5 linked regions of the Homo sapiens genome follow. The protein of the gene in region 3 purifies or fractionates together with the protein of the main gene of each other region. This does not show direct contact. Each region holds a gene or a part of one and is shown on either strand. Other genes may lie near its edges.

Region 1 (4,667 bases), on a different chromosome or scaffold from region 3:
CTGCCTCCTGGGTTCATACCATTCTTCTGCCTCAGCCTCCCAAGTAGCTGGGACTACAGGCGCCCACCATCATGCCCAGCTAATTTTTTTGTATTTTTAGTAGAGACAGGGTTTCACTGTGTTACCCAGGATGGTCTTGATCTCCTGACCTCGTGATCCGTCCGCCTTGGCCTCCCAAAGTGCTGGGATTATAGGTGTGAGCCACCACGCCCGGCCCAGTGATAAGCATTTTTAATAAGCTTCCTGGGTAACTTTGATGCCTGTGGTCTGTGGGCCACACAGTGAGCCTGGCAAAGACTGCCTCCCAGTGAAAGGATACTGAACCTGTCAATATAAGGACACTTGATCCAGATAATTTAAACAATCCCTTTCTGTCTCATTCCTTCATCCATCCAACTATCCATTCTTCCATTCAGCAAATGTTTATTAAATGTCTACTTTGTGCCAAGCATTGTTCCAGGTGCTGAGGAGGATATAGCAGAGAAAAACATCTAGTATCTGACCTAATGAAATTTATCTTCTAGTGAGAGGAACGAACAGTAAGAGAGTGAGAGGAAAAAGGGAAGAGAGAGGGAAAGAGTGAGAGGAAGGGAGGGAGATAAAAACATTTCACCTGTAAAAATTTTTGGGCTGGGCACGGTGGCTCACACCTGTAATCCCTGCACTTTGGGAGGCCGAGGCAGGCGGATCAAGAGGTCAGGAGATTGAGACCATCCTGGCTAACACAGTGATACACCATCTCTACTAAAAATACAAAAAATTAGCCAGGTGTGGTGGCAGGCACCTGTAGTCCCAGCTACTTGGGAGGCTGAGGCAGGAGAATGGCATGAACTTGGGAGGCGGAGCTTGCAGTGAGATAAAAACATTTCACCTGTAAAAATTTTTGGGCTGGGCACGGTGGCTCACACCTGTAATCCCTGCACTTTGGGAGGCCGAGGCAGGCGGATCAAGAGGTCAGGAGATTGAGACCATCCTGGCTAACACAGTGATACACCATCTCTACTAAAAATACAAAAAATTAGCCAGGTGTGGTGGCAGGCACCTGTAGTCCCAGCTACTTGGGAGGCTGAGGCAGGAGAATGGCCACTGCACTCCAGCCTGGGCGACAGAGTGAGACTCCATCTGGAAAAAAAAATTTTTTTTTTTAATGTGTCTCTAACATATAAGGACCAGCTCTGGCACAAAAAGATGTTCCTGGTTCATCTTGAACATTTCCTGCCCCAGGCAGGCAATCAGCCATTATTCTGAGGAGCGCTGGTTCCACTTAGCAGGAAATGGTATTTAGAGACCACAGTGTGGGAAGTAAAAGTGCTCCATTGCTATGGAGCTGTCGTTTATTTCAGGTGTTTTCAGTGGCAGGAACTAGAAAATATATATTTTTAAAAGGAAAACAACTATGCATTCAGATATTTCACATTTATATTTAAGAATGCAAGCATTTTACATCAGTTTTATATTTGTACCTCTGCTATCTTACACTAAAAATCCTAGTTCTAATGACATTAGCATTATTACTTATTTACATACAATAGTGTCAAAATAAGTATGACAGTATTACCAACCAACAATGAGACAGTAAATATAATTTAAGATTTTCTTGTGATTATTTATGTTCACAGGATGGATTCCTATGTAGTGGTATAGACTTATATGGATATATTTTAAAGTCACTTAAGATAATTCTCCTCTATGTGTTTATTAATCTTTCAATTTGTTATAGAGTTATGTTCATTTGTTCTTCTTTTTTATGATTCCATTTTTCCCCATTTGATTTAATTTTAAAATTTATGATAACATTTACATGGTTCCAAAATAAAAACTTTAAAAAAGATAGTTAGTCTATCCCCTATCCCTGTTCCCTTTACCTTCCTCTTACTCTCTCCATAACTAACAATTTTTATCAGTTTTTCATTCATCCTTGTATTGTTTCTTTTGAAAATATGAGCAAATCACACAAAATATACGATTGTATTTTCTTACCTTTCTTACACAAAGAGTACAATTCTATAAATACTATTTTGTCCCTGGAGAGAATTTTACAGGAGTATATACAGGTCTTATTCTTTCCTTTTGCAGCTGCATAGTGCTCCACTGTGGACGTAGCATCACTTACTCAACCAGTCCCTAAATTAATGACATTTGTGTTGTTTGCAGTCCTTTGCTCTTATCAACAGTGCTGGAATGAACAGCCTATCACAAAACTGTGTTCCACAGCAATGTGTGTGACAGCCTATTTCCTCACAACCTCTCCCACAGAGGGTATTGCCAAACCTTTGGGCTCTTGCCAACTAAAGAGTTGGAAAATGCAGCCAGGCGTGGTGGCTCACGCCTGTAATCCCAGCACTTTGGGAGGCCAAGGTGGGCGGATCACAAGGTCAGCAGATCGAGACCATCCTGGCTAACATGCTGAAACCCCGCCTCTACTAAAAATACAAAAAATTAGCCGGGTGTGATGGCAGGCGCCTGTAGTCCCAGCTGCTGGGGAGGCTGAGGCAGGAGAATGGCATGAACCCAGGAGGCGGAGCTTGCAGTGAGCCATGATCGCACCACTGTACTGCAGCCTGGGCGACAGAGCAAGACTCTGTCTCAAAAAAAAAAAAAAAAAAAGAGTTGGAAAATGCTGTTATAATGATGTTTTAATGTGGCCTTTCTCTTCTTTTGAGTGTGGTTTAACGTCTTTTATATGTTTAAGGACTATTTTCTTTTTTTGTCTATAAACTCGCTATATATTCTGCTGATAAGGTGATATTTGGACAGAGACCTGAAGGCATGATCATGTAGATACCAGGAGGAATAGCATTCTAGGCAAAAGGGACCACAAACATACAGGCTTTGAGGCAGAAACCTGCCTGGCATGTTGAAGGATAAGCACAAAGAAGAATGTGGCTGGAGGAGAGTGAACAAAGGGAAAGAGAAGTAGGAACAGGAGCAGAGGGCCACATCTAGTAGGTCTTGGAGGCTGCAGGATGGACTTGGCTATTCCCCTAAAGGAGGAGAAAGCCACTGGAAGGTTAAGAGAGAAGACTGATAGCAGCCCATGCATATTCCCACAGGGCCACTCCGTCTACTAAGTAGAGGATGGGCTGCAAGAGTGAATCAGGGAGGTCAGTTAGAAGGCTGTTAGGAGAGTCCAGATGAGCAATGATGCTGGCTGGGACTATGGCAGAAGCAGAGGTGGGAGAAGTGGTTAGATTCTTTTTTTTTTTTTTTTTTTTTTTTGAGACAGAGTTTCGCTCTTTTTGCCCAGGCTGGAGTGCAATGGCGCGATCTCGGCTCACTGCATCCTCCTCCTCCTGGGTTCAAGCGATTCTTCTGCCTCAGCCTCCCGAGTAGCTGGGATTACAGGCATGCACCACCATGCCTGGCTAATTTTGTATTTTTAGTAGAGATGGGTTTCTCCGTGTTGGTCAGACTGGTCTTGAACTCCCGACCTCAGGTGATCCGCCTGCCTTGGCCTCCCAAAGTGCTGGGATTACAGGTGTGAGCCACCACGCCCAACCAGATTCTATTTTTTTTACATCAAACATTTTAACAAAATCCTTTTTTTTTTTTTTGAGATTTGAGACAGGGTCTTGTTCTGTTGCCCAGGCTGGAGTGCAGTGGCACCATCAAAGCTCACTGCAGCCTCGACCTCCCGGGTTCAATCAATCTTCCTGTCTCAGTCTCCCATGCAACTGGGACTACAGGCATGTGCCACTACACCAGGCTAATTTTTGTATTTTTTGTAGAAATGAGTTTTGCCATGTTGCATAGGCTGGTCTCAAACTCCTACGCTCAAGCAATCGTCCTGCCTCAGCCTCTCAAAGTGCTGGGATTCTAGGCATAAGCCACAACATCCAGCCCTAAGTACTGTCTTATAACAAATATTTGGACTCTTAAGGTACAAGTTAACAGTCCTTGAAACCGTTAGAACAAACTTTTCAACATTACAGAAAATAACTTTGTATCTCCTTTAGCAAAAGCTCTGCCTCTCCTGTAACAGGTAGACTTGGACAGAAATTCACTTTTTAATGACAGAACAAAAAGACAAGAATAGATTTGACTTAAATTATTTTGGCAAATTCAATTTTTACTTCTAATTTTATTAAATATACATAGGAACTCAACTTCACAGTAAATGATATATAATAAGAATATATTTAAATTGTTATGGTGCCCTTCTTTCTTATCTTTCTAAACAAAGGCAAATTGGTTTTTTTTGAATTTTATTTATTTATTTTTATTTTATTTTATTTTATTTTATTATTATTATACTTTAAGTTTTAGGGTACATGTGCACAATGTGCAGGTTAGTTACATATGTATACATGTGCCATGCTGGTGTGCTGCACCCATTAACTCGTCATTTAGCATTAGGTATATCTCCTAATGCTATCCCTCCCCCCTCCCTCCACCCCACAACAGTCCCCAGAGTGTGATGTTCCCCTTCCTGTGTCCATGTGTTCTCATTGTTCAATTCCCACCTATGAGTGAGAACATGTGGTGTTTGGTTTTTTGTCCTTGGTGATAGTTTACTGAGAATGATGATTTCCAATTTCATCCATGTCCCTACAAAGGACATGAAGTCATCATTTTTTATGGCTGCATAGTATTCCATGGTGTATATGTGCCACATTTTCTTAATCCAGTCTATCATTGTTGGACATTTGGGTTGGTTCCAAGTTTTT
Region 2 (4,667 bases), on a different chromosome or scaffold from region 3:
AGGATATCACAAGCCCCCAACAGGCTATCAGTGAGGTGCTCTGAAATCAACATAGCTGAAAAGCCACAAAAAAAATCCTAAGTATACCACATACAAAAATAAATAAGCAATATGTGTTTCTGAAAATGAATAAAGGATGTTTTACATTGCTATGATTTAATAAATAGAGCTGAAATAAACTCATACATTTTATTAACAATTATCCTAGGAGCCAGAAGAGTAAAAATGATGAAATTTTAAAACTTGCAGACCTGTATATTAATGTATATATCATTGAATTTTTATTGATATATATGTACTTTTTATAAACCAAGGCAATCATCACTATAAAACATAAAAACACAATATTAAAGTTTGCCACATTGTAGCTGTTACATGATTTAAAAGTACTAACTTTCATAAAAGCATGATAACGAACTTTTTTATTTAAAAACAGATATATCATAGGGCATGATGCAGGCAGCTGGTTAAAAATTGATTCAAGAACTGGTGAGATACAATTTTCTAGAGAATTTGATAAGAAGTCAAAATATATTATCAATGGGATATACACAGCAGAGATCCTGGCTATAGATGGTAAGAAAATTTATTTTCAGTATTTTAAGAAAACTAGTACTATTATATTAAATATTATGTTATTCTAATGCTGATATTTGAGTGACTCAGACATTTTTAATGGTGTATGCAAGACTTATGGAAAGCCCTAAACACCTTAAATCAAGAATTGAAGTCAATTAAAATCATAATTTACACTGAAGCCATAGTTTATTTCATCTACTTCCAAAACTGAGTTGTATATGGCTTACAGCATAAAAGTTAAAATATAATTCATCTTCTGATTATGACTTTGTCTCTTGAGTATGGCTAATCTCACTTGTAGGGTATGTTGGGAATGTTTACTTAAAGTAAGGGCTACGTGCTCTACAAAGTTCATTTGGGGATCACCTTGTGGGAAAGCAATGTCTCCAAGAATACAATTATTTTAGATCCATTAAAACTGAACTACAGTGAGAAGCTTGTGTGAGTGTTGCTTGATTAGACATATTTCCATAGTAAGATGCTATGGACCAAGAAAGCACAGATTATTCCAAATATAAGATCCATATTAAAAGTCATAAATACAGATGCACTGACTTAACTTGTAAGCGAGCCACCTCTCACATGGGTAAATCTGTTAAGCAGTCCTCTTGGTGAGCAGCAACAGGATTTGTTTATTTATCAATAGTTAATGATTCTATGAAGCAGTGCCTAGGAAACCAGCTGCTGTAGAACCAAACAAGAGACAAAGGTCAGGAACCACGAAGGAAGGGGAAAGACAGGCGTCCAAGATACATGCCTAATGTAAGACAGATACTGTAGGTTTGCATTGAGTTTATAGCTGACCTTTCCAGTATCAAAACAAAAATAAAGATAAAGAAGCAGCATAAAATTCAAAAAGAAACCATGATAAAACCAAACCAACTATCATCTGTACATCCTGGGCTTCATCCTGTGGCGGGTAAATTTTAACGCCTGGGTCAGTTTTATAAATAACATTGTCTTATTCATTATCAGTATTCTGGAAGCTCTAATTTGAAAATGGATTCTAACCATGTTGATTGCACCCTATGTTTGCATATTGGTCATATGTGAAAAATCTTCAAATGCTAGAATAAATAATTAGTCATTCCAAGCAAATAAAGAGAGAGAAAGTGCTGTCAAAATGTACCAAGAGAAACCCAGAAACAAAGCTGATTGTTTATTCACCTAAGCAGAGTGTCTGCACTGGCACAGAGCTATCTGAATGGTTGGAATAAGTTTGCTTCAGCACACACCATCATCAGGTGAAGAGACAGACCTCTATGCAGAGCAAACTTTACTGGGAAGCAAACACTATAAGCAATAGCTTGAGCTTTGGTTGCCAATCACAAGGTAATAGAAGAGCTACCAAAGATCAAAGAATGACAAATAAAACAATCTGTGGAATAATCTGATGCCTCTCGAATGAGAAGCTAAGTGAAATCGACATCCTTCATCTAGTAAAAACAAGTCCAATGCTGAATAGGGTATATAAACATATTATACAAAATCATATAGACTATAGGTAGGCTCTCAGTTTATTCTCATTCAGTTACCTCAATGACTACTACTTAGGCACACAGAAAACATCTGTAAAAGGAATTTATTGCTTTCTCAGAAAAGGACCTAGTAAGGTACCCCAGAGACGACAACGTTCTAGTTTAAAAGCGAGAAAGCTAAGATTCTTTTCAAGTTAAAAAGAAGCAAAAAAAATTCCGTATTCGCTGTAACAGAACATAGAGTAGAAAAGTGGACTAAAAAGCTCCTGGACTCCTAATCTTTAGTCTTTGGCCCTTTCTGATTAATTATACTATCCAAAAACTTGTTTCAAGTGGATTAGGGAAAAATCTAATAGACTTATATTTGTTTTCAGAAATGCCATTTCAGAAAGAAATAGCATGTAACAGATGCAATTAAAATAAACAGTGAGCACACAAGAAAAACACAAACAAGTATTTATTTCAGCTGTGGTTATTTCTACAAACACAGGACTCAGTGAGCATCCTGAATGGAGGTTCATAACTGACCTGGGGGTCTAATTTATGGGAACAGGGTGAGATTAGAAACCAGTAAACCTTCTCGGAGGAAGAACATTTGATTTTGCGCCTTAGGATGTGTCAGAATTAGCAAAATGAAATGAGGGTGGAAAACATTTTAGGAAGGGTGAAAAGAATGTGCCAGAGTCCAGAGTAAAAAAGAAACTTGTTTAAAGAACTCAAAAGAAGCAGTGTGGCTGGAAGGTAGCACACAAAGGGAAGAGTGACTTTGGGTCACTGAAGCGGGCAGGAACCTGTCAAGCCTCCCAAGTCACGTATATGTTTCCTACAAGTTCCATGGCATCATCAGGGGATATGAGAAAGAGTTTTCTCCCTAACACCATTTACCTCAACACCAATGACCCTTACTCTTTCAGATGGCTCTGGAAAAACAGCTACAGGAACCATATGTATTGAGGTTCCTGATATCAATGATTATTGTCCAAACATTTTTCCTGAAAGAAGAACCATCTGCATTGACTCTCCATCAGTCCTTATCTCTGTTAATGAACATTCTTATGGGTCTCCGTTTACTTTCTGTGTTGTTGATGAGCCACCAGGAATAGCTGACATGTGGGATGTCAGATCAACAAATGGTAAGTGAAACGTAAGCTTGTTTTTTGGACTTTAAGTCCAAAAGCAAAACAATTACCAAAAAATGTGGCAAGTCACTTAATAAAACATTCTACTTCTGTTTCCACAGTTCTTGCCATATTAACATTAAATGAAAAAAATATTTCATGTACACAGAGGATATTTGATAAAATTTTGAACTGAAATGAAATGAGTCAAAATGTTTCATTAATATTTAATTTACAAATAGTAGTGGATAAATACCAGTTTACCCATCATTTTGAGTAGGTAAAACGTTGAACCAATATTTATTCAGTTTAAAATAAACAGAACCCTTAACAAACTCATAAATTAAGAATGTCACAATTCCCTATTCTGAATAAATTCAGACAAATCACATAAATGTCTCTGAAACTCATATATCCCATAGATACATTTAAACATTTACTACTCACTTAGGAGCACATAAAATCAATTAAATTGTTTTTTACAGTAACTATGAGTTCAGACTTATTTTTAAGGGTAAAAATTTAAATCCAAATTGCTCAGTATTAGAGGAATGATTAAACAGAGTACATATTATTAAGATGTGTTAATATACAGCCATTAAAATTAGAATTATGCAAAGTATGTAGATACAAAAGAATGCATAAACCAAAGAAAGTAAAGTGAAAAACAGATCACGAAGTTGTATATGTATGTATCTTGACTATAACTACATACAATTGAATGGCTGACATCGATAAAAATTAAGAATAAATTTCAGATAACATAACATTTTATCTACCTTGCGTTCTTTTTCCTAAAACGTTAAGTGCATAATAAAAAAGAAAATGCTATGAGAGGATCTCATATGGGCTAAGATAGCTCCCCAATCTCATATTCATTTGGGGCTACAGGGAAAATTTCATGGGCTAGTCGGTGGCCATCAGACTACAGAGCCCAGGGTGAGAGGAAATACTTCCCACCTCTTTAAGGTCACCAAGCCCCTCTATTTACAGAATGGAGAAACCCTAAAATAAGGTGGGGAAAATACCACCAATAAAGTAAGAAATTAGGCAATTTGTTTTTACCATCAAACCTTTAGCTCTTTTCAACAAAACCACTTTAATATTTTTTAAAGTTAATCATGTTAAAGCAATTCCATTAATATCAAGTCAACTCTGAATTCACCATCTCCTATAAAGCTCAATAGCCCATTCATAAACAATAATAATTGCTAACCACTTTTTTCCTCATTCGGATCCTAGATATTATGATTACACATGTAAGAAAAAATGTTCTGCATGGAGGTATAATATTATAGCTATTACAGGTTTGCCAATAAAAAATATAACCACACTGGAGATGATATTCCTAGAGACCTGTTTCAATGCTTGCTGGTGTTTTAGAACAGAATGAATTTCACTTAATGTGCTGTGGCATTGCCTTATCTCATTTTTACCTTGTGCACAGGTTAGATTTTGGTGGACATAGCTGGCTTGCCATCTAGCTAACTGA
Region 3 (4,581 bases):
CCCAGAACCAGAGAGCTGGGCAGCTGAGGTTCTCAGGGCTCCTGTGTGTGGACATCCCTAGGGATTAGTCCAGATGCTTTCTTAGGCCTGGGTAAACTGAGGCACATTGAGTTAGGAGGCCAGCCTGTAGTTGTGCAGCAAGTCAGGACAGAGCTGAGCTTTGGAGACTCCTGACTCATGCTGTTTCATTCACCCCAAATCCTGGGTGAGGTTCTTAGGGGAGTGGGAAGGCTGGCTTTTCTTTTTTTTCTTTTTTTTTTTTTTTGAGACGGAGTCTCGCTCTGTCGCCCAGGCTGGAGTGCAGTGGCGCGATCTCGGCTCACTGCAACCTCTGCCTCCCTTGTTCACACCATTCTCCTGCCTCAGCCTCCCGAGTAGCTGGGACTACAGGCGCCCGCCACCACGCCCGGCTAATTTTTTGTATTTTTTAGTAGAGACGGGGTTTCACCGTGTTAGCCAGGATGGTCTCAATCTCCTGACTTTGTGATCCACCCGCCTCGGCCTTCCAAAGTGCTGGGATTACAGGTGTGAGCCACCTCGCCCGGCCGAAGGCCGGCCCTTCTCTGGGTTCAGAGGGGAGCTGAGGCTCCACAGGAAGCCTGGGAGGTTTCTAGGCAGGCTGAGAGGGACTGTGGGGCGGGGTAGGGTGGGGCGTCCTAGCAGCCAGGAAACGTGTTTAGTGCATCAAGGTCCAAATTATCCTAACGAGCTTAAGGGCAAAGCCGGGGATCCATGAGGAAAGGGGATTGGAGGGGGTTAGGGCAGGCAATCCTATTAGAGGCAGAAAGGTCCCAGCTGGCCCCGCTGATCTCTCACTGGCCTGCCCCGCCTCACCCTGCCCTGCCCCGCCTGGCCGGCCTCCACCTGCCTTCATTTACCAAAATCTCAGGGCACACCTGTTCTGTGCCAGGCTGTGTGCTGGGGGCAAGCACAGTGACAGCCATGGTCCCCTGCTCACTGTGTTCACGGCAGGCAGGGAAGAGCTGCGACGCACCTGCCTATGTGATCAGTGCTGTGGCCTGACAGCTTGTGTCGGGAGCCTATGTGGGGACGTGGGAGCTGGGGGTGGGGGGAGGTGGGGGGGGATGGGGGGATGGGGAGGGTAGGGGGGTGGGAGGGTGTTGTGGGGGTTGGGGGAAACGTTCTCAGCAGAGGGAAGGGCATGCACAACTCCTGAAGCTGACAAAGCTTGGTGACTGCACCAGACGGAGGCTGCCGGGGCTGGAGCCCAGGGAGCAAGGGGTGTGTTGTGGGATGAGGCTGGGGACAGATCACACAGGACCAGTCAGGTTTCTAGATTTTAACTGGGACCCTAGACAAACCCCATTCTCCTCTACTGAGTCTCTGTCAGCCCCTCTAGAAAATGGGGGTGATTGGCCCTGGTTCCCTCAGGTTCCTGGGCTCACTCTGGATATAGCCACAGCCCAAATTGGGTGCTCAAATCCCCTCAGTAACCTCCATCAGTAGTTCTCCTGCTTTCGCTTGCATACCTCCCGGATGGGGAGCTCACTACATTTCTGTACTTCTGTTTTGATCAATAACAACTGAGCCCACTTGTGCTGCCTCGTCTATAAAGCGAAACTCCCCATAACTAATTGGAACCCAGCCAGGTCCCTCTTGCCTCTGTAGTCTCATCCTGGTCCCTACCCCTGCTCCAATCCCCTGGCTCCACTTCTGGGATTGCAGAGCTGAGATAACTGAGGTACAGGCCTCGCCGGGGAGATCAGCCCTGTCTAGGTGCCATTCCCAGGGCAGGTGCTCTGATTGGCCCAGTTCAGGTCAATCGCTGGCTACTGGGTGTGGGCATTTGCCTACTTAGTTGGGACTACGGGTGGGGTGGGGACAGCTGTAGGTCACTGAACACCAGATGTCTCCACATCTGACCCCCATCCTGTTTTGCAGGAACAGACAACGCAAGCTGGGGACGAAACTGCAGTGACCAGTGGGTGTGGCTGGGTCCAGCCTCCAGATCTGGCCCGCACGATGCCTTGCAGGATGGACAGGATGACAGACAGGGACGAAGCAGAGACCTCTACAGACCCAAGTCACCAAGTGGAGCCTTTTTTTTTCTTATTTTAATTTTAATGAACAAGGTGGACCAAAGGGCTGAACCAGCCCCTCAACCAGGACCCTGGGGGGCCTGCTGCCTGGGGGCCGTGGCCAGAGACCCTCGCTGTGCTGCTGCCAGCCCCTGGCTGGGCAGAAAGTGCCCTCGGCATGGGCACCTGGGTGTGGGGTGGAGGAGGAGGGCTCGCGCCTCTGGTCTCGGGGCCAGGAATTCCAGGTGGCGTGAGAAGTACACACTATTTATTTTTTGGTTTTGTCAGAGGCAGGCAGGATTTTGGAGCTGGAAGAATCTGCTCTCCGGTGGCTGCCCTGTGAACAGAGGGCTCCCGGTCAGCTTCCCAGGCCCTTCGCCCTATGCCCAGAGGGCAGACTGCCTCTCCCTGGGCCGGGGTGGCCTGGGTGCCAGGAGGAGGGGAGCATACCCCACACCCTCCCTGCCACCGTTGCCGTTCCAGAACCTCGGTCAGTGTTTCCCTGTCTGGGGGCAGGGCCCAGAGCGAGCACGCGTCTGGCGGCTGCTGTCGTTGTGTTCTACCCCGTACTGACCCAACACCACAAGGGCTTTCTCTGGTCCCCTGTCCCTAAGACAATAATCGCTTTCTGACAAAGGAGCCTGCACATTTGGGTGAGCAGACCCAAGCTGTTTACAGCTCTTTCTTGTCCTGCCATCCAGTAGCAGTTAGTCTTCATCCCCACGTGAACAAAATGGGAAGGAGCCGTGAGGAGAGGAGTGAGGCAACAGGCACCCGAAGTCCCTCGTCCTTCCCTCTGTGTGCTCTGAATATGTCCTTGTCCTTCCTGACCCATCTCTGACCAGCTGGGAACCTGCTTGGGGTCCCCCTCAAACCTGTGTCTGGGGTGTGGGCTCACAGATCCCTATCAGCCTGGTTCGTGGGAGGGCTCTTCCTAAAGGGACCCCCATCTCTAAGTCACTCTGAAAGGGAGTTGTGGAGAGGAGACGCCTCCAGACTCTCAGAAGTTTTGAGGACTGAACTGGGTCACTCGGGATCTGTGTTCGAATCCTCCCCACCCCTTTCTTTGTGGAGTTTCCTAACCTGCTGCTGAAGCACAATGTTTTGGTGCTTTCTTTTCTCATTTGTTAAAGGCAGTGTCCAAAAGCCATTCCAGATGCCAAGACCAGGGGCTTATTTCTAGGGAAGGTAGGTCGGTTTCCATGTTTCCCTCCCGTTATTTTTATTTTTTACTTTTTGCCTGAGACAAGCCGAGTATGAGGTGGTTTGATTTAAGAAAAATCAATGAAATTGTTTACTACTGTTTTAAAATAAAACCGTAAACTCTGGCAGCTTGAGCACTTGCTGATTGAGCTCAGGAGAGGAGATTGGGGCAGCTGTGGGGACACATGACCCTTAGGGGCAAGGATACGGTGAAGACCATAAAACCAGAAGTGATCTAGTCCCTTCTAGCCCACAGCAGGGGTCTGAATGACCTCTGCGGCATTTCCTGTCAGGGTCTGTCCAGCTTCTGATTACATCCCTCCAGGGGACCTCACTGAGGGCCACCATACCAAACCTGGACACTCTCAGCCTTAGGAAGTTTTCCTCTTTTCACTGTCAGTCTCCCTCCCTGTGTGGCGCTGGCCCTCCTCTCACTGAGCCTTGTTCCTCCTCTGTGGGACAGCCTTGAGGACTCAGGGGCAGCCAGTGTGCCCTTCAGAGTGTGCCAGGATAAACATCTCCACTTGGTCTGACACAGTGGCTCACGCCTGTAATTTCAGCACTTTGGGAGGCCAAAGGAGGAGGATCATTTGAGCCCAGGAGTTTGAGACCAGCCTGGGCAACGTAGCAAGACCCTGTCTCTACAAAATATTTTTTTAAAAATGAGCTAGGCGTGGTGGTGCACACCTGTGGTCCTAGCTACTCGAGGGGCTGAGGTGGGACGATCGCTTGAGCCCGGGAGTCAAGGCTGCAGCCAACTGTGATCACACCACTGCACTCCAGCCTGAGAAAAACCCCATCTCAAAAACAAATATATGTGGACAAAGATGATCAAATATAAAAGGAAAAAAGACACCATGATGGAGCAGCAGCAGAAAACAGATAATAGAAACAAACCCACAAATTCTTCAAATACTGGAATGATTAAGCAGACTGCTTTACTATTTTTTTTTTGAGATGGAGTCTTGCTCTGTCACCCAGGCTGGAGTGCAGTGGCGCGATCTCAGCTTGCTGCAACCTCCGCCTCCTGGGTTCAAGCAACTCTCCTGCCTCAGCCTCCCCTGGCTAATTTTTTTTGTATTTTTAATAGAGATGGGGTTTCGTCATGTAGGCCAGGCTGATCTCTAACTCCTGATCTCAAGTGATCCACCCATCTCGGCCTCCCAAAGTGCTGGGATTATGGCATGAGCCACCACGCCCAGCCTGTTTTACTATTTTTAAAGAGAACACCAGGCACGGTGGCTCACGCCCATAATCCAGAGATGGGCAGATCACTTAGGGTCAGGAGTTCGAGACCAGCCTGGCCAACATGGTGAAATACCATCTCTACTAAAAATAC
Region 4 (4,667 bases), 1.4 Mb from region 3:
CAAGTGGCCTGCAGTCAGGCTGGGTTTGAAGCCGCTAGCTTGTGACCTCGGCTGGCCGCTTAGCCTCTGCCTCCTCCTTTGTAAATAGGTGGTAATGGCAGTCTCCACCTTGAGAGGATGCACCTGTGACTGTGAACATAGTAGCCGCTCTTGTTGTCATTCCAGCTCTGACGTTTTCAAGTAGCACGAGTTTTCCTTAGTGTCAAGTGAGCGCCCAGGCTGGCCTGTTTGCTGGAAGCTGGACAGATGGCTGTGGCTGGGGCCACAGAGAATGCCATCCCAATGAAAGCCAGGTGGCTCTGGTACCTTGACGCGAGGCCACCTTCCCTCCTCCCAGGTGTCTCTTCCGGGGAAGGAGGGCTGGAGGGCAGTGGGCATTTGCCAGGGAGCTGGAGAAACCTGCCGTGGCCCTTTCTGGGGGATGTGGTGGGGGTGGAGCTGGGACTAGGGGAGGCTGAATTCAGCCAGGATCTGCCTGCCAGGCGCAGCTCCCAGGAAGAAAGCCCAATGTCTGGGAGGGTCAGAACCCAGAGGGCTGTCAGGTTGTACAGATGAGGAAATTGAGGCTTAGCAAGCCAGGAACTTGGCTGAGGTCAGCCATAGCAGCGGTGCACAGAGCTTAGTGGGCACATACATGCTTGGTGCCCAGCTCTGGGCTCCTTCCCCCAGCATCTCACCCAATCCTTACAGTCGCCCTGTGGGGAGCAGGCTGTTTGCACCCCTATTTTGCAGCTGAGCAGTTATGCTAGAGAGCTGAAGCCACTCAAACCCATGTCTGGTGGACTTGACCTCTGTCCTGTGCCTGGAGTGAGCGCTCACTGGATTGCAGCTGTGGTTCCTTCTCTCCCTGTCACTTCCTCCCCCGACATCAAACCCTCAGTTTCATTTAGTTTTTGCCTCGGGCTGCAAATGCAGCTTAGGGACCTGCGGAGGCTGAGGGAGGGGGGTGCCCCACCCGCTGCTGGGAGGGCAGGAGCAACGCTGCTGTCTGATTGCATCATTTTCCCAAGCCCATCTGCCCAGCTCATTTCTCTGCATGCATACACTGGCCCCAACACCCACACACGTGTGCATGCACACAGGCACACATGTGCAAGCCCAAACACATCACACACATGCATGCACACACATTGTGTACTCTCAGGTACGCACCCCTGGGTGCACACAGGTGTGTGCGCGCGCACACACACACACACACACACACTGTCTCAGGTACACACGCCAGGTCCATGCATTGCTTCACACTGCCCAGCCCCAGAGGCTGAAGGCCTCAGAGCCCACACCTGCCCAGCTACAACCTGGCAGGCAGGAGGGGCTCACTGGTTTCTTTTGGTTTATTTAAGACAGAGTTTCACTCTGTCACCCAGGCTGGAGTGTGGTGGCACGATCTTGGCTCACTGCAACCTTTACCTCCCAGGTTCAAGCGATTCTCGTGCCTCAGCCTCCCAAGTAGCTGGGACTACAGGTGTGTGCCGCCACACTCAGCTAATTTTTGTATTTTTAGTAGAGACGGGGTTTTGCCACGTTGGCCAGGCTGGTCTGGAACTCCTGACCTCAAGTGATCCACCCACCTCGGCCGTCCAAAGTGCTGGGATTACAGGCATGAACCACTGTGCTCGGCCATGAGAGCATGTGTAGGACTCCACAGCTTCAGGGCACCCCAGCCCTCTTTTTGCGGTGAGGAGCTGACCTCCAGAGAGTGGAACTAGTAGCATTGTTCTAAGTGCCTGCCACAGGCATCTGGGAGATGGTCCCTGTTTCCATGGAGCTCATAGTGGGGGAGAGGGCAGTTAGAATACAGCATGATGGCCGGATGTAGTGGCCCATGCCTGGAATCCCAGCACTTTGAGAGGCTGAGGCAGGCAGATCGCTTAAGTCCAGGAGTTCGAGTCCAGCCTGGGCAATGTAGTGAAACCCCATCTCTACAAAAAATACAAAAATTAGGCAGGTGTGGTGGCATGTGCCTGTAGTCCCAGCTACTTGGGGGTGGTGGCACTGAGCTGGGATGGGAGGATCCCTTGAGCCCAAGAGGTGGAGGCTGTGGTGAGCTGAGATTGCATCACTGCACTCCAGCCTAGGTGACAGAATGAGACCCTGTCTGAAAAAAAAAAAAAAAAAAAAAGGATACAGCTCTGATGGGCAGGAGGCATGGCGGGTCACTGAGGCGATGCAGGTGATCCAGCTGTTTCTGTGGAGCTGCCCCTCCGTGTTTCTGTGGAGCTGCCTCTCTTGGCTCCAGGTGCCTCTGGGAGGAGGCAGGAGCAGGGGTGACTCTCAGAGCTGGGTGAATCTTGGGCCAGCATCATCAGATCACACTTGCCCAGGACTTCCCTTCCTTGAGTCTCCAGTGGTGGTCTTGTACCTATGAGCAGGGGGTTAAGGAGCCGAGCTGATCTGAGTTGGAGTCCTGGCTCTGCTGCCTACCAGTCAAACGAGATGCAGGGCAAGTTCCTCAGCCCAAGCCTCAGTTTTCCTGACTCTAAAATGAAGAGAACCCCAGATGGAAGGGCTTAGCCTAAGACGGACATGTCTATTCCCTTGATTGTGGTGTTGATGTCACGGGCGCATCCGCACGCCGAAACTTGCTAAATTGGACACAAAAAAATATGCGATTATTTTTGTAGTTGATGAATGTGCTGATTGGGTATTCTCGTGTGTGTGTGAGGTGCCACCCTCAAACTTTGTTATGATGTTGGCACATTACCCATCTGATATTTAAAAAATGCAATTTATGATATGTCAAGTAGACCTCAATAGAGCTGTTTTAAAACATACAACAGAATTTCCCGCAACCCAACCACACCACCCGCGCCATCACACGCAAACAGGGGTAGGCTTCCACATATTTCCTGAATGCCTTCTGGAGCAGGGGGCAGGAGGCAGGAGGCAGGACAGGTGGCTCTGGGGCTCCTGGACCTCCTCTGCTCAGTGAGGCTGCTCACAGGAGATTGGGCGGCTGGAAAGTAAGGTTTAGGGCCTCTGGGATGGCCCAGGCTACCTGCAGGCAGCTGAGTAGCTCTGCTTTTGCAGAGTGGTTCACTGCACTGTGAAAACAGATTCCAGACGCCGGGAACTCACGCCTCCAATCCCAGGTACTGCCCACCTTAAGTCCTCCCTGCCTGCCTTCCTCCCTCCTTCCCTCCATCCTGCATGGCCAATTGCCTGGCTGCAGTTGCCATGGATACCACCTGCTGGCTCCAGGGTTAGGGCTGGCTGAGTCACCAGCAACTCAGGGGCAGGGGGTTGAATGCCCAGTAGGGACGTTGTGGGCACCGACCAGAACCATCTTCTCTGCCCCAGCTGCATGGTCCATGAGGTGTTTCCCCTTCTAAGTCCAAAGGGCAGCACAGGCCTGTGAGCCCCGGCTGACTGGCAGGTGGGACCGTGCAGCATGCACGGGACTGAATTCTCATGTGACGGAGCTCCAAAGTCCACCTGGCTACACGGCCAGGCTCTGCAGCAGAGGACGGGAGGCCTGGGAAAGGCACTTCCTCTCCCCGAGCTTCCAGGCACACAGAGAGTGCTCAGGATAGCGATGCCTGCATCACTGCAATGGTGATGGCCGGGTGACCCTTCTGGGCTCCACTTCCCCAGTAGTGTCTAATAAAGACCCTGGGTGACTCTGACCTTGTGACGTTGGTCAGACTCCAGTGGAAACGTTCCCAGGCAGAACAAACATGCCCTGTACATTTGGGAAATGCGGGATGCTGGGGCCAGGTGTCCACGGAGGCTGGAACCAGGAGGCCTGGGCCCACATCTGCCCCTGCTGCTTGTTGATCCGATGACCCTGGGCAGGTGACCTCGTCTCCCTAACCCTGGTTTCCTGTTCAGCAAATTGGACACAGTGAAGACGCCCAAGCCCAGGGCCACAGGAGGCATGTGGGGGAGGGGGGTGCAGGGCGAGCCCAAGGGCAGCCCAGGATTCAGGGAGAGCCCTCGGGGAAGAAGCATGGCTGCAAAGATCAGGAGACAGGAGGCCTTGGCGCCTTCGGGAGGCTTCATTGTGACGGAGGGTGGGGCAGGATGGGAGACCGCAGGCACTTCCCGGCTGCAGAGGGCCTGGCTGCAGAGAGCCCTCGTGCCCATCTGTCCCCCCGGGAAGGGCCGCTGGTTGCAGAGGTCTTAGGCCTCTGCCTGTCTATCGCCTTCCCTCCCTGGGCCTCAGTTTCTCTACCTCCACACTGGGGGAAGTTGGTCTCTGAGCCCCTCCAAACTGGGCATTGGCAGAGTTGAATTCAGAGGCGCTCACATTTGGAGACACGATGTCTAAAATTCCAGCCAGTGAAGGTTCCATGGGGTTGCAGGTAGGAGAGGGACTGGGGCTGGGCCCCTGCCCCACAGCATCCTTCTCCACCTGCAGGTGGGCGGCGGCACTGCGTGCTGGGGAAGCACAGATTCTTGTGCCCTCTGTGACCTTGAGCCTGCCACTGACCTCTCTGAGCCCTGCTGGCTGCCTCCCCAATAGGAATGACAACTCCTACTTCATGAGGTTGTAGTGGGGGCTCAGGGGCACAGGGAGATCCCGCTGAGGCTCCCAGGGCCCTGCCTGGTGCTTGGCAAGGAGCAGTTCTGATGGGGGATGTGTCAGCTGCCAGAGGCTCAGAGCCAAGGCCCCTCCCACATCTCCTGCCTGCGTGCATTCCTCACATCCTGGCCTTGGGCCAAAC
Region 5 (4,088 bases), on a different chromosome or scaffold from region 3:
GCTCCAAGTTTAAGGCAAGTGGCTTACCCTCCCTGTGCCTTAATTTCTTCATATATGGAAAGGGAATACTAACATATACCTTTCATGGGCATGCAAGGATTAAATGGGGGAGGTGTGTAAAGCTCCTAGTACATAGAGAAGCTGAAAATATTCAGTCAAACAAAGAATAATAGAGCTAGGAGGGACCTTAGAGTTCCTCTTCCCCTGGCTTCTCCTGTCCTCACTGTACAAAGGAGGAGACCAAGGCTCAGAGAGCGTACATATTTCCCTAAGGTCAGAGTGAATTAATGGTGTCCCTGTCTTGCTGCTGGGAGAGAGGTCCTTTCTTGCATCTCTTTCACAGCAGGGGGAAGGTGACTCACCTGGAGAGTGGAGTGTGTGTGTGTGTGTGTGGGTGTGGGTGTACACACATGCATAAGCCTTCCCTTCTTCTAGAGTGGGTGTCCCATCCCCCACCCCACAGGGACTGAGGTTGGGGTGGGAGCTCTCAGAGACCAGGCCTCTCTCCACTTCACTTTCAGGCCTGAACAATGGGGACCTGGTGTTGAAGGATATCTCCAGAGCAGATGATGGGCTGTATCAGTGCACAGTGGCCAACAACGTGGGCTACAGTGTTTGTGTGGTGGAGGTGAAGGTCTCAGGTAGGTGCAGCAGTCTTGAGGGCTGGGTGGTTGGGAGGGTTGAACTGGAGGAGGCTGGGCTCTGGTTTGGAGCCTCAGCTGCTTCTGCCTTTCCACTGCCATCCATTTGCCAGTGGGGGCTCCCAGCCCCTTTCCTACAAGTGGGCCAAGATCAGTGGGTACGATCTTGACCCTATTGAGCTGGGTCAAGCTCGCCCAGCACAGCTTCCACTCTGAGCTCTAGAGCCCAGAGCAGCTGGAAGCCCTGGGAGAAGCATGCTGACACGAGGGGTTAACTTGCATCTCCCCATATCTTCCCCACTGGGTGTTCCAGGGCTAAGAGACCCCCTGGGTCCCTCTCCCTCTTTCCCATTAACCCCTGACCTGGCACCTCCTGGTGCTGTTCCCTCAGGCACCTGCCAGGCTGTGAGAAAGCCTGACCTGCCTCCACTTCTCTCCACAGACTCCCGGCGTATAGGCGTGATCATCGGCATCGTCCTGGGCTCTCTGCTCGCGCTGGGCTGCCTGGCCGTAGGCATCTGGGGGCTCGTCTGCTGCTGCTGCGGGGGCTCCGGGGCTGGCGGCGCCCGCGGTGCCTTCGGCTACGGCAACGGCGGCGGGGTCGGCGGAGGGGCCTGCGGCGACTTGGCTAGTGAGATCAGGTAAAACCTGATGCATGCTGCATGCTGCTGTGCGGCAGGGAACCGGCGCCCTGCCCACCTCACTCCTGCCTGCCACCGGCCGGCTGGGCCCCCCACCCCAACCCTGCCCGCCATCGCCACGGAGTGCTGGGACTGCGGCATGTCGACCTGCCACCCAACTCATGGCTTTCCCCTCCCCCTGCCACCCCAGTCTTCACCTCTGCTCCCTGCCTTCCATTTCCCTCCTGCCTACGCACCTGTCTGTCTTGTCTAGACTGTAAGCTCCTGGAGGGCAGGGCCTATGTTTTTTCACGTTTCCCCTGTACTGCGCCGGTAAGAACTCTGACATTATTATTTAAGAAGAGCTAATAATAAGAATAGTGCTAATAACTTATATTAGAAGCAAACTAGAAATAAAAATAGAACAAGTCTAGTAGTGCTAATGATTGCAATGCCTCGGGGATGGAGGGAAAGATGGAGAAGACTGAGGGGCAGGAGGTGAGAAAGAGAGAGATTGCTCGAGCAAGGTCAGGATTAGCTAAGGAAAGAAGAAGAGGAAAAGCACCTTCTTCTGGGCCTGCGAAACATCAGAAAGGGATTGCAGGGGCCTGGAGGGGGCTGCCTGCAGGGCTCTCCAGATACGCGTGGACAAGCCCTGTCTGGAGGATGGGGATGCTGGCTCCGGGACCGCTGCAGGGTCGCCGACCCAGGAAGGGTCACAAAGGACAGTAGGTCGAGGCCGAGGGAGAGAGACGAGGGCAGGTGGAGGGAGGCGCGGGAGACAAGAGGTTGCCAAGAGCCCCCGGCTCTGCCCAGGCCGTGCCCACGCCCCGCTGCGGAGCAGCCCGCTCACCCGCCCGCCTGTTGTTTTCCACAGAGAGGACGCCGTGGCGCCCGGGTGCAAGGCCAGCGGGCGCGGCAGCCGCGTCACCCACCTCCTGGGGTACCCGACGCAGAACGTCAGCCGCTCCCTGCGCCGCAAGTACGCGCCTCCCCCCTGCGGCGGCCCCGAGGACGTGGCCCTGGCGCCCTGCACCGCCGCCGCCGCCTGCGAAGCGGGCCCCTCCCCGGTCTACGTCAAGGTCAAGAGCGCGGAGCCGGCTGACTGCGCCGAGGGGCCGGTGCAGTGCAAGAACGGCCTCTTGGTGTGAGCGCGCGCGCCGGGCCGGGCTGCGCCCCAGCCAGGAGGAGGGCGCGGGGCTCTCTGTCTGCAGCTGGGGACACGTCGGGGCTGGGGACGACCTCGCTCGCCCCAGGCTGCCAGGCGGCTGGGGGTGAAGGCATTTCCCTAAGGAAATGCGTAGGGAGGCAGAGCCTCCTCCCCAAAAGTGGGAAGGGGCGGGCGAGGGCGGAGGAAGGCGATCCTGAGCCTTCTCCGCACCCCCGGGACCGAAGGCTTGGGGGAGAGGGAGGGAGGAGGAGGCTGAGTGTCCTAGAGCGGCTGAGGCCGGAGGCCTGGTGTCCCCAGCCTAAGCAGAGGGCCCCGGGGGCCGGGTGGGTGGGGGTCTGTCTGGACGAATTGTTCTGTGTGTGAGGTCTGAGCTCTGAGGCAGCAGTGTTAGCACAATAAAGAAACATTGAGACGTGAGTCCGAAGTGGCTGTCCGCGTTCCACGGAGGTTGGGCACGGGGTGGCGAACCCTGCCCAGGGCCGGGGAGGGTTGCTTCTGTCGCTCGCCTCGACCACGCCCCCTCTCCTCCCTCCTGCTTAGATCCCTGGCAGTCAGAGCTGGAAGGGGCCATCCAGGGCAACTCCTCTGAACAACATACAAAGTGCAGATAAAAGGAAAACAAAGACAAAAAGAATTAGCTCAGAATATCTACGACCGTAAAATAAACTGAGGAACCGACAAAGTGCAATACACTTGCCATTTCTAAATATTCAAAGTTTTCACATGTCAAGATTTTCTATTGAGAATAATGTGCTCTGAAGGTCTAGGGAGTCTTTGTATGTTGCTGAAAGCTAAAAGGAAACCAGTCCTTGGAGCACAGAAGGCACAGGCATCCGGTGAGACAGAAACAAGGACATGTGAAAATAAGACTACAACCTCTTATATTAAAAAACTAAGTGCCACAGTTCTAGGGTGCTGGGTGAAGTGCAGGAAGGAGGGGGAATAATATTTATATAGCATATATTATGGAACTCGGAGAGTATGGTAAATCCCTTCACCTAGATGCTGCTGGTGTTTTAGAACAATTATTTTTGTGGTTCTTTTTTTTTTTTCATTTGTCTGCAGTTGGTCAACTTGTGCAGAGCCCATTCTGCAGGAGATGTTTGAGAAATACCAAGTGAATGAGTGTGGCAGCATTACTTTATGCTAGAAAAAAAAAGTTTTTAGATATTTTACAGTTACTGCCTTATGATGGAATATTCTGTGGTGAGAATCTAGGCCTTTCTGAGATCCAGCTCCACGTTCTTACACCCTGAAGTAGTCAGCCACTCCTAGATAGGGATTAATTGAGCTATTTAGTATTTACCAGCACTTGTTTTGTTAAACACCTTGTCATGATATTTACAATGTATTTTGGGGGATGTTTTAGTCATTTTTGGTTCAAAAGTGGAAATCAATAAGCACTGTTTTTGTTAATAGGCGCAAGACGTCCTCTCTTGTTTAGTGAGATGGGGAGTGCTTAATTGAAGAGTAATGTTTGAGATAAAGTTCCAAGGATATATTTGCTAAGCAAACAGTAAGTAAAGTGGGCAGTGTTATAGATGTTCCTTTGTTGATAAAGGGACCAGGTGGTCACACAGCAAGGAGGGGGATGCAGACAAGTAGACAAGCTCTACTAATCCTTCTTTGTTCAACATCATCTCTGTTGGGCATTGG

Evidence for each region.
Region 1: the proteins of DOLPP1 (region 3) and LYG2 purify together in Homo sapiens (affinity purification with mass spectrometry; 3 studies listed by BioGRID and IntAct, with this or other methods). This does not show direct contact.
Region 2: the proteins of DOLPP1 (region 3) and DSG4 purify together in Homo sapiens (affinity purification with mass spectrometry; one large-scale study listed by BioGRID and IntAct). This does not show direct contact.
Region 4: the proteins of DOLPP1 (region 3) and ASS1 purify together in Homo sapiens (affinity purification with mass spectrometry, with the first as the bait; one large-scale study listed by BioGRID). This does not show direct contact.
Region 5: the proteins of DOLPP1 (region 3) and VSIG8 purify together in Homo sapiens (affinity purification with mass spectrometry; 3 studies listed by BioGRID and IntAct, with this or other methods). This does not show direct contact.

What each region holds. Positions count from the first base shown.
Region 1 is NC_000002.12:99,248,314-99,252,980, reverse strand, and holds part of LYG2 (lysozyme g-like protein 2 precursor), read left to right. Parts: intron 1-4,667. UniProt on the Homo sapiens protein: May act as a potent antibacterial protein that may play a role in the innate immunity.
Region 2 is NC_000018.10:31,400,445-31,405,111, forward strand, and holds part of DSG4 (desmoglein-4 isoform 2 preproprotein), read left to right. Parts: intron 1-436; coding exon 437-576; intron 577-2,971; coding exon 2,972-3,190; intron 3,191-4,667.
Region 3 is NC_000009.12:129,087,069-129,091,649, forward strand, and holds the end of DOLPP1 (dolichyldiphosphatase 1), read left to right. Parts: intron 1-1,902; coding exon 1,903-1,939; 3' UTR 1,940-3,370; downstream 3,371-4,581. UniProt on the Homo sapiens protein: Required for efficient N-glycosylation. Necessary for maintaining optimal levels of dolichol-linked oligosaccharides. Hydrolyzes dolichyl pyrophosphate at a very high rate and dolichyl monophosphate at a much lower rate. Does not act on phosphatidate.
Region 4 is NC_000009.12:130,447,242-130,451,908, forward strand, and holds part of ASS1 (argininosuccinate synthase), read left to right. Parts: intron 1-2,614; exon of another isoform or gene 2,615-2,714; intron 2,715-3,030; exon of another isoform or gene 3,031-3,092; intron 3,093-4,667. UniProt on the Homo sapiens protein: One of the enzymes of the urea cycle, the metabolic pathway transforming neurotoxic amonia produced by protein catabolism into inocuous urea in the liver of ureotelic animals.
Region 5 is NC_000001.11:159,853,077-159,857,164, reverse strand, and holds the end of VSIG8 (V-set and immunoglobulin domain-containing protein 8 precursor), read left to right. Parts: intron 1-521; coding exon 522-641; intron 642-1,004; exon of another isoform or gene 1,005-1,083; coding exon 1,084-1,282; exon of another isoform or gene 1,283-2,138; coding exon 2,139-2,412; 3' UTR 2,413-2,849; downstream 2,850-4,088.